2 separate regions of the Homo sapiens genome follow, and region 2 is reported to be linked to region 1. Evidence: microRNA targets listed by miRTarBase, many of them from high-throughput screens and not tested one by one. Region 1 holds a microRNA gene; the other region holds the end of a gene's coding sequence.

Region 1 (3,546 bases):
TGCTCCCGGACTGGGGCTGCAGAGAGCTCTCAAGGGGCCTTGGGAGGCACAAGCAGGCCAGGGTCCCAGGGAGGGGAGGCAGGAGGCAGCAGGGCCGGATGGTGGGCTGCAGAGGTGGAAGGAACAGGACAGTCTGTTCTGGGGGTGCTGGCTGTGGGGGACAGAGGCCAGGCCACAAAGCAGAATGGTGGGTGGGCCAGGAGGAGGTGGGAGCCTTTTTCAAAAGGCTTTCAGGGACTTTTTATATTTAATGATTGAAACAAAAGATATCCAAAACCGCAGTTCCTGAGAACCACTTGTTCTCGCCCTGGTTCCTCTCCTTGGGCTTGACCTTGGCCTCCTGCCGGGCCTGGCAGCGGACAGCAGTCTCCCTGCTTCCCAGGCTGGGCGAGGGAGAGCGTGGGTCCCCAGGAACGGGGGAGGTGGTGCGGCTGGCTTTAGGATGCCCATTCTGGAACCTTCTGGTGGAAGAAAGCAGGGGATCAGTATAGTATGGTTGATCCACACACTCCAGACCCTCTCCTGGCTGTGCAGCTGGTCTGATCTGGGCTCAGAGGCTGCCACTGCTCAGTGCTCCCCTGGGTAATTTTGCAGGAGGCCAGGAGGGTTCCTGGCAGTTAGTGCCACCCACACGGAGAAATTCAGAGCCATATAAACGGGTCTCCAGGGCCTGGAGGGACTGCACATCCTGGGCCTGCGGCGCAGTGTAGACCTGGGAGGATGGGCGGCCTGCTGCTGGCTGCTTTTCTGGCTTTGGTCTCGGTGCCCAGGGCCCAGGCCGTGTGGTTGGGAAGACTGGACCCTGAGCAGGTACAGTCCTCCTGGGGGTGGGGAGAGCTGGTCCTCGGGGGCCAGCCCCTCCTTTAAGGCCACACAGCTTCTGGGCCCCCCAGGGCTAGCCCAGACCAGCATGAGCAGTGGGGAATTAGTTGGGCCAGCCCTTGGGGAGTCCCACAGGCAGGAGCCTCAGGGCAGGAGGGGTGGATGCTGGAGGGTTGGAGGCTGGAGGGCTGGAGAATTGGAGGCTGGAGACTGGAGGTTGCAGGGCTGGAGGGTGTAGGGTTGGAGAACTGGAGGCTGGAGGGCTGGAGGCTGTAGGGCTGGAGAACTGGAGGCTGGAGGCTGCTGGGCTGGAGGCTGGAGGGCTGTAGAACTGGAGGCTGGAGGGCTGGAGGCTGGAGGGCTGCAGAACTGGAGGCTGGAGGGCTGGAGAGCTGGAGACTAGAGGCTGCAGGGCTGCAGGCTGGAGGTTGGAAGGCTGGAGGGCTGGAGCCTAGAGGCTGTAGGGCTGGAAGGCTGGAGGCTGGAGGGTTGGAGGTCTGGGGGGTTGGAAGCTGGAGGCTGGAGGGCTGGAGAACTGAAGGCTAGAGGCTGCAAGGCTGGAAGGTTGGAGGCTGGAGGGCGGGAGGGTTGGAGACTGGAGGCTGGAGGGCTGGATGGTTGGAGGGTGGAGGCTGGAGGCTGCAGGGCTGGAAGGCTGGAGGCTGGAGGGTTGGAGGCTGGAGGCTGGAGGGCTGGATGGTTGGAGGGTGGAGGCTGAGGCTGGAGGTTTGGAGGCTGGAGGCTGAGGCTGGAGGGTTGGAGGCTGGAGGCTGGAGGCTGGAGGGCTGGCGGCCCTAACGGGAGCCGCCTCAATGCAGCTTCTTGGGCCCTGGTACGTGCTTGCGGTGGCCTCCCGGGAAAAGGGCTTTGCCATGGAGAAGGACATGAAGAACGTCGTGGGGGTGGTGGTGACCCTCACTCCAGAAAACAACCTGCGGACGCTGTCCTCTCAGCACGGGTGAGTGGGCGGGTCCTGCCAGGCCTTCCCGCAGGCAGGACTGTGGCTCAGCCACATCATGTACTTTGCACATCTGCTCCCGGGCACCGCGGCCTGGGGGCTTCCCACGGCCCCTCTGCACCCCCGTCACTTTTCCCACTGGGCTCTGTGCAGAGCCACCAGCCCTCTGCCCAGCTACTCACATCTGTGTCCCTGGGGCCTCCAGGTGGCACTCCCACCTTCAATACCGCGGCGGGCACTGCTCTGACTATGCTCCTTCATGCATCCCTGTCCTGGGTCATCTGGGCTGCAGGCTGTGGTCAGAGCTGGGGAAGCCTGTCCTCTCAGCAGGCCTTTTTCGGGAATTCTGTTTAAAGGAGGATAATGCATTCGGACCTAAGAACCACTGGTTCTTTCATAACATAAATCCCCAAACAATATGGTCATGGACGCTGTTGGCCAGACTGGCCTTGTGGCCTCAGGCAGGCGCACCCGACCACATGCATGGCTGGTGGCGGCGTGCAGGGGTCGGGTGGGCCAGGCTGTGGGGCGGCCGTGCTACACAGGGGACACCTACAGGGCAGCCGGGCTGTGGGGGTAGCCGTGCTGGGGCAGGAGTCGGTGCCCGCCTCCCTTCACAGAAGAGTGGCCTGCTGGGTGGCGTGGTGGGTGTCTACCCCCTGGCAGGCTGGCGACAGAGCCCAGGCCTGAACCACTGAGCCAGGTACGGGGCCCAGAGAGAAGAACCTGCCCTCCTCACCAGCGTGCCTTCCCCCTGCACCTGCGCCTGCAGGGTATGGGCAGGGGCCCCACTGCACCCCCCGGGCCAGGCCTGGCCTCAGGGCGAGCTGGGACCAAGGGGCTCCAGGCTGAGGTGGCAGCTCCCACGTGGCTTTCCTAGTTCTTCTTGCTGTTCCTCCCGCATGGACTCAGCCTCAGTTTCCTTCCTTGGCAAACACCATTGCACCTTTGCTGGGTTTTGCTCACTCTGGGGACTGACCACTTAGGGAGCGCCGGCCCCTTCCCCCGAGTCGCAGGCAAACCCCCACCCCGCCCCATCCTTCCCCTGAGTCGCAGGCGAACCCCCACCCCACCCCATCCTTCCCCTGAGTCACGGGCGAACCCCCACCCCGCCCCATCCTTCCCCTGAGTTGCGGGCGAACCCCCACCCCGCCCCATCCTTCCCCTGAGTCACGGGCGAACCCCCACCCCACCCCATCTTTCCCCCGAGTCGCGGGCGAACCTCCCGTCTGTCGAGTCTCCTGTTGTGTCCTCAGCAGCATTCAGCGTTCCTGGTGGAGATCTGGCACTGAGGATCTCTCAGGAAGTGAATGGGAGTGTCCGCCCCTCTCAGGACTCCCACGCCGTCCACTCTCCGAGAACAGGTTTCCGGGCATCGGGGCATCTGGCAGAAGATGGAAGCTCTGGCCTCACTGCTGGCTGGCCTGGCCTGGACTCCTGAGCTCCGTCTCCTCTCACCGGGCCCCGGGGTCTTGACCCTGAGTGGGTGACAGGCCCCTTCTTTTCCAGGCTGGGAGGGTGTGACCAGAGTGTCATGGACCTGATAAAGCGAAACTCCGGATGGGTGTTTGAGAATCCCTGTGAGTCTGACGGCCACGGCCTCACCCAGGCCGTTCTTCCCTGCAGCATCCCCAGGCCCCCTGCGGGCAGGGACGGAGGGCTGACTCCGCTCCCGAGAGCCAGGAGGCTACAGGTTCTGGTCTTGGGATTGCTGCCCATCCTGAGGGTGAAGAGAAGCCCCTGGACAGAGGATTGGAACCTTGTTC
Region 2 (3,000 bases), not on the chromosome of region 1:
ATGATTTTTGGACTTCAACTTTCAGATGTGTCTTTAGTAACTTATTTTGTATGAAAATATGGGACATTAGAAAAAGTATATTTATGGGTTTTTTTCCTCTGAATTACTTTTTTTTTCTTCTATCATACTAACTGTAAAGAGAGTTATGTACTTATTGTAAAAGATTTTAAGGATAATGTTAGACAATTGTATGGTTTCTTTGTGTGTGTGTGTGTGTGTGTGTGTGTGTGTGTGTGTGTGTGTTTATCTTTTTTGCTTGCCTTATTTAGCAGTTTTAACGTTCAGGTATTCCTAAAGTTTTGAATCTTTATCTTTTCAGAATCTTTAGAACACGATGTTCTTGATGATAATACAGAGCAGACAGATGACAAAATACCAGCTACAGAACAGACAAACCAAGTGATTGAAAAAGCATCTGACTCAGAGGAACCAGAGGAGAAACAAGAGACTGAGAATGAGGAAGCCTCAGTGATTGAAACCAACTCCACAGTTCCTGGAGCTGATTCTATTCCTGATCCTGAACTAAGTGGAGAATCTTTGACGGCAGAGTAGTAAATGCTTCCACGTGCCTTCAACTGGATATTTATAGTCTTACTGATGTCAGTTATTGCTTTTTCGGTGGCACTTACTTTTTTTGCCCCTCTAAGGGTATGCTTGTGTATCATTTGAATTCAGATTGCCTAGCTATTTGAACATCTCAAAGTTATATATACTGGGTATTAAAATTAAAAGCAAGTTATATCAGTGAAGTAAGATCCTTTTGAATGTACAAAGACCCACACTATTGAGACAGCTTTTAGATACTTTTTTGTCCATTCTAAAAGTAAGCAAACATGATTGCCTTCTTGTTTTCTGTATGTATAACCCGTAAATATCCATTTTGACATAGGAAGAACTTTGGTTAAGAGTAAGTTCTCTAATTGTGTTTGTTTTAAGGAATGAAACTTGGTTAAGATTTTGACTACTTCATTATTAAAAATTGATAGAATTTTAGCTCCTGAGATATTTACAACTGGGAGAAATGTCTATTTAGGTGTTTACATTAAGCGGTATGAAAGTTGTTACCACATAGGCACTGGTACGAATTCTCAATAAGAATGCAGTGGAACAGTTAAGTAGAACTGTAACTACGTTGGCACTGGTACGAATTCTCAGTGAGAATGCAATGAAACAGTCAACTGCAGTGTTTCTTTTTGATGTCTTTTATTTTACAACTGGGCCAAAGGCACATTATGTATATAATTAGTTTATATTTACACACTAGCATATAGGAAATATTTCTGCACTTGACCCTATTTGAATTCTGAGCATTATTTATAAGTATAAAATGATGATATATAAGTGAATTTTGTGCTCTTGTTTGTATTTTATTAAGGAAAATGAAAATAATCTGGCATCAGTTTCATTTTGCTAAATATCTAGTCTTCTTCAAACAGTATCTTGGTGGGTGACTTGGCTACCTGAAAAATCTTAGGAGGAATAGCTCACAATACAATAAATCTGTAGATTCTGCTTAGAGCAAATTATGGTACTTTTATTCAGACTTGTTTCCTTTCTAGTTAACAGAAATAGTGACATTTAGAGGTTTTAATCAGAAGTTAGGTTTTTCTGATTCAGGAACATCGTAGGCCAGCCATTTGTAATTTTTAACTTTGAGAAACAAATTTTGTGAGAATAGGTAGTGGGTTGCTGGTAGTTAATTGGATTTAATATTTGTATTAAGGATTAACTGGAAAAAATGTGTCTCAGTGCTAATTCTTGGACCTTTAATACAGTGTGCTTATCTGTTACGGCCTCCTTTTATCTCTCTTCTCCAATATTAAAAAAAATGGAAATCAAATTATTATGCTGAAGGGAAAAATATACCTGTATAAGAATGGTGTGTTTGGCTAATGTTTCTAAGTTGCACACAGTTTATTAACAACTGAACAAAACATTTTTATCATTTAAAAATCTATTTTTATGATTTAATATCTCATATGTGACAGTTTTTTTTTTTTTTTTTTTTTGGAACTCAATCTGTTAACAGTCTGGGACATCCGGTATAGTAACCAGAGTTTTTGAGCCTGCCGTATTGGGCTTAAATTTCAGGTCTGTAGTCTTGGGCAAGTCACCTATAAACTCACTGAGATTATTTTTTCATCTGTAAAATGGGAAGAGTTATGTTTATTTTTGAAGGGTATTAGGATAATTAAAAATAATGTAATGTGCCTAGCACACTACCTGAAAACGATGGCATTTGTTCTTATTAATGTCTTTAAAATATGCAAGGACCATAAGTTTTTCCTCTTGCAGATGAGGAAAGTAAAAAATAATACGAACATGTAATTCAGCTTCTCAGATTCAAGCCAATGTTTTTTGCATCAACTTTTCTATATTGTATGTATGTATATAAATACATAGATTAAGGAAATAGGAAACTGAAACTCTGTGGAATATAAACTTTTTAAAAATAATTTCATCAGGTTTTTTGTATGTTACTGACCCATATGGATTTTAGTAACATCTTGCTTAGTCATGTTGTTATAAAACATTCAAATTCTGATATACATTGCTTGAAAATGAGTGAGTACCTCAGAGAAATTTGATAGACTCAAACAGATAGTATGAGAAATATCTTTGAAAGAAATATGGAGGAAGGTTAAAAGGGGATTAGTAAAATTAATGCGATAGGTAACATGTTTGTAACCATATAGTATCCTTTTAGATACAAAAGCTTATTTTCATTATTATTATAATAAACAGTTAATGGTTGAAACTTAGTAAAATGTCCTATTTCTGATTATTAAGACTAGTATAAATGAGAAAATCCAAGCTATTAAGTACCATTAGCTACAGTGATCTTAGCTTCCTTGCTTACAATTGTTCAGTGGGTCATCTAAATTCTTCTATGTCCTGAGCATGATCTACAAACATGGTCTAGCTTCTGTCTCTCCGTCTTCCCGCCATCATTGTGCTGTAGCCATATGGAACTCCTTTCAGTTCTCTGACCATGCCCTT

Evidence for each region. The annotated mature microRNA hsa-miR-6722-3p reads UGCAGGGGUCGGGUGGGCCAGG and lies in region 1 at 2,280-2,301, shown strand. An mRNA with a match to its seed (bases 2 to 7 or 8) in the 3' UTR can be bound and repressed. Matches are read on the target gene's strand: a 7mer-m8 pairs with bases 2 to 8, a 7mer-A1 pairs with bases 2 to 7 and ends in A, and an 8mer does both.
Region 2: the mRNA of LNPK is a reported target of hsa-miR-6722-3p. The part of its 3' UTR that is shown has no 7-base or 8-base seed match.

What each region holds. Positions count from the first base shown.
Region 1 is chr9:136,745,658-136,749,203 of GRCh38, reverse strand. MIR6722 (microRNA 6722) reads left to right here and starts at 2,234; the gene lies at 2,234-2,311. LCN6 (lipocalin 6) reads left to right here and starts at 679. Exons shown (of 7, transcript NM_198946.3): 1 at 679-810; 2 at 1,641-1,780; 3 at 3,290-3,360. The coding sequence starts at 721. It overlaps LOC100128593 (a long non-coding RNA gene), which reads right to left and starts at 3,043. Exons shown (of 3, transcript NR_033913.1): 1 at 3,003-3,043; 2 at 632-2,126; 3 at 1-458.
Region 2 is chr2:175,927,519-175,930,518 of GRCh38, reverse strand. It overlaps LNPK (lunapark, ER junction formation factor), which reads left to right. Exons shown (of 13, transcript NM_030650.3): 13 at 320-3,000. The coding sequence ends at 552. Among named protein-coding and RNA genes, the nearest start is that of LNPK, 73 kb to the left of the region's middle.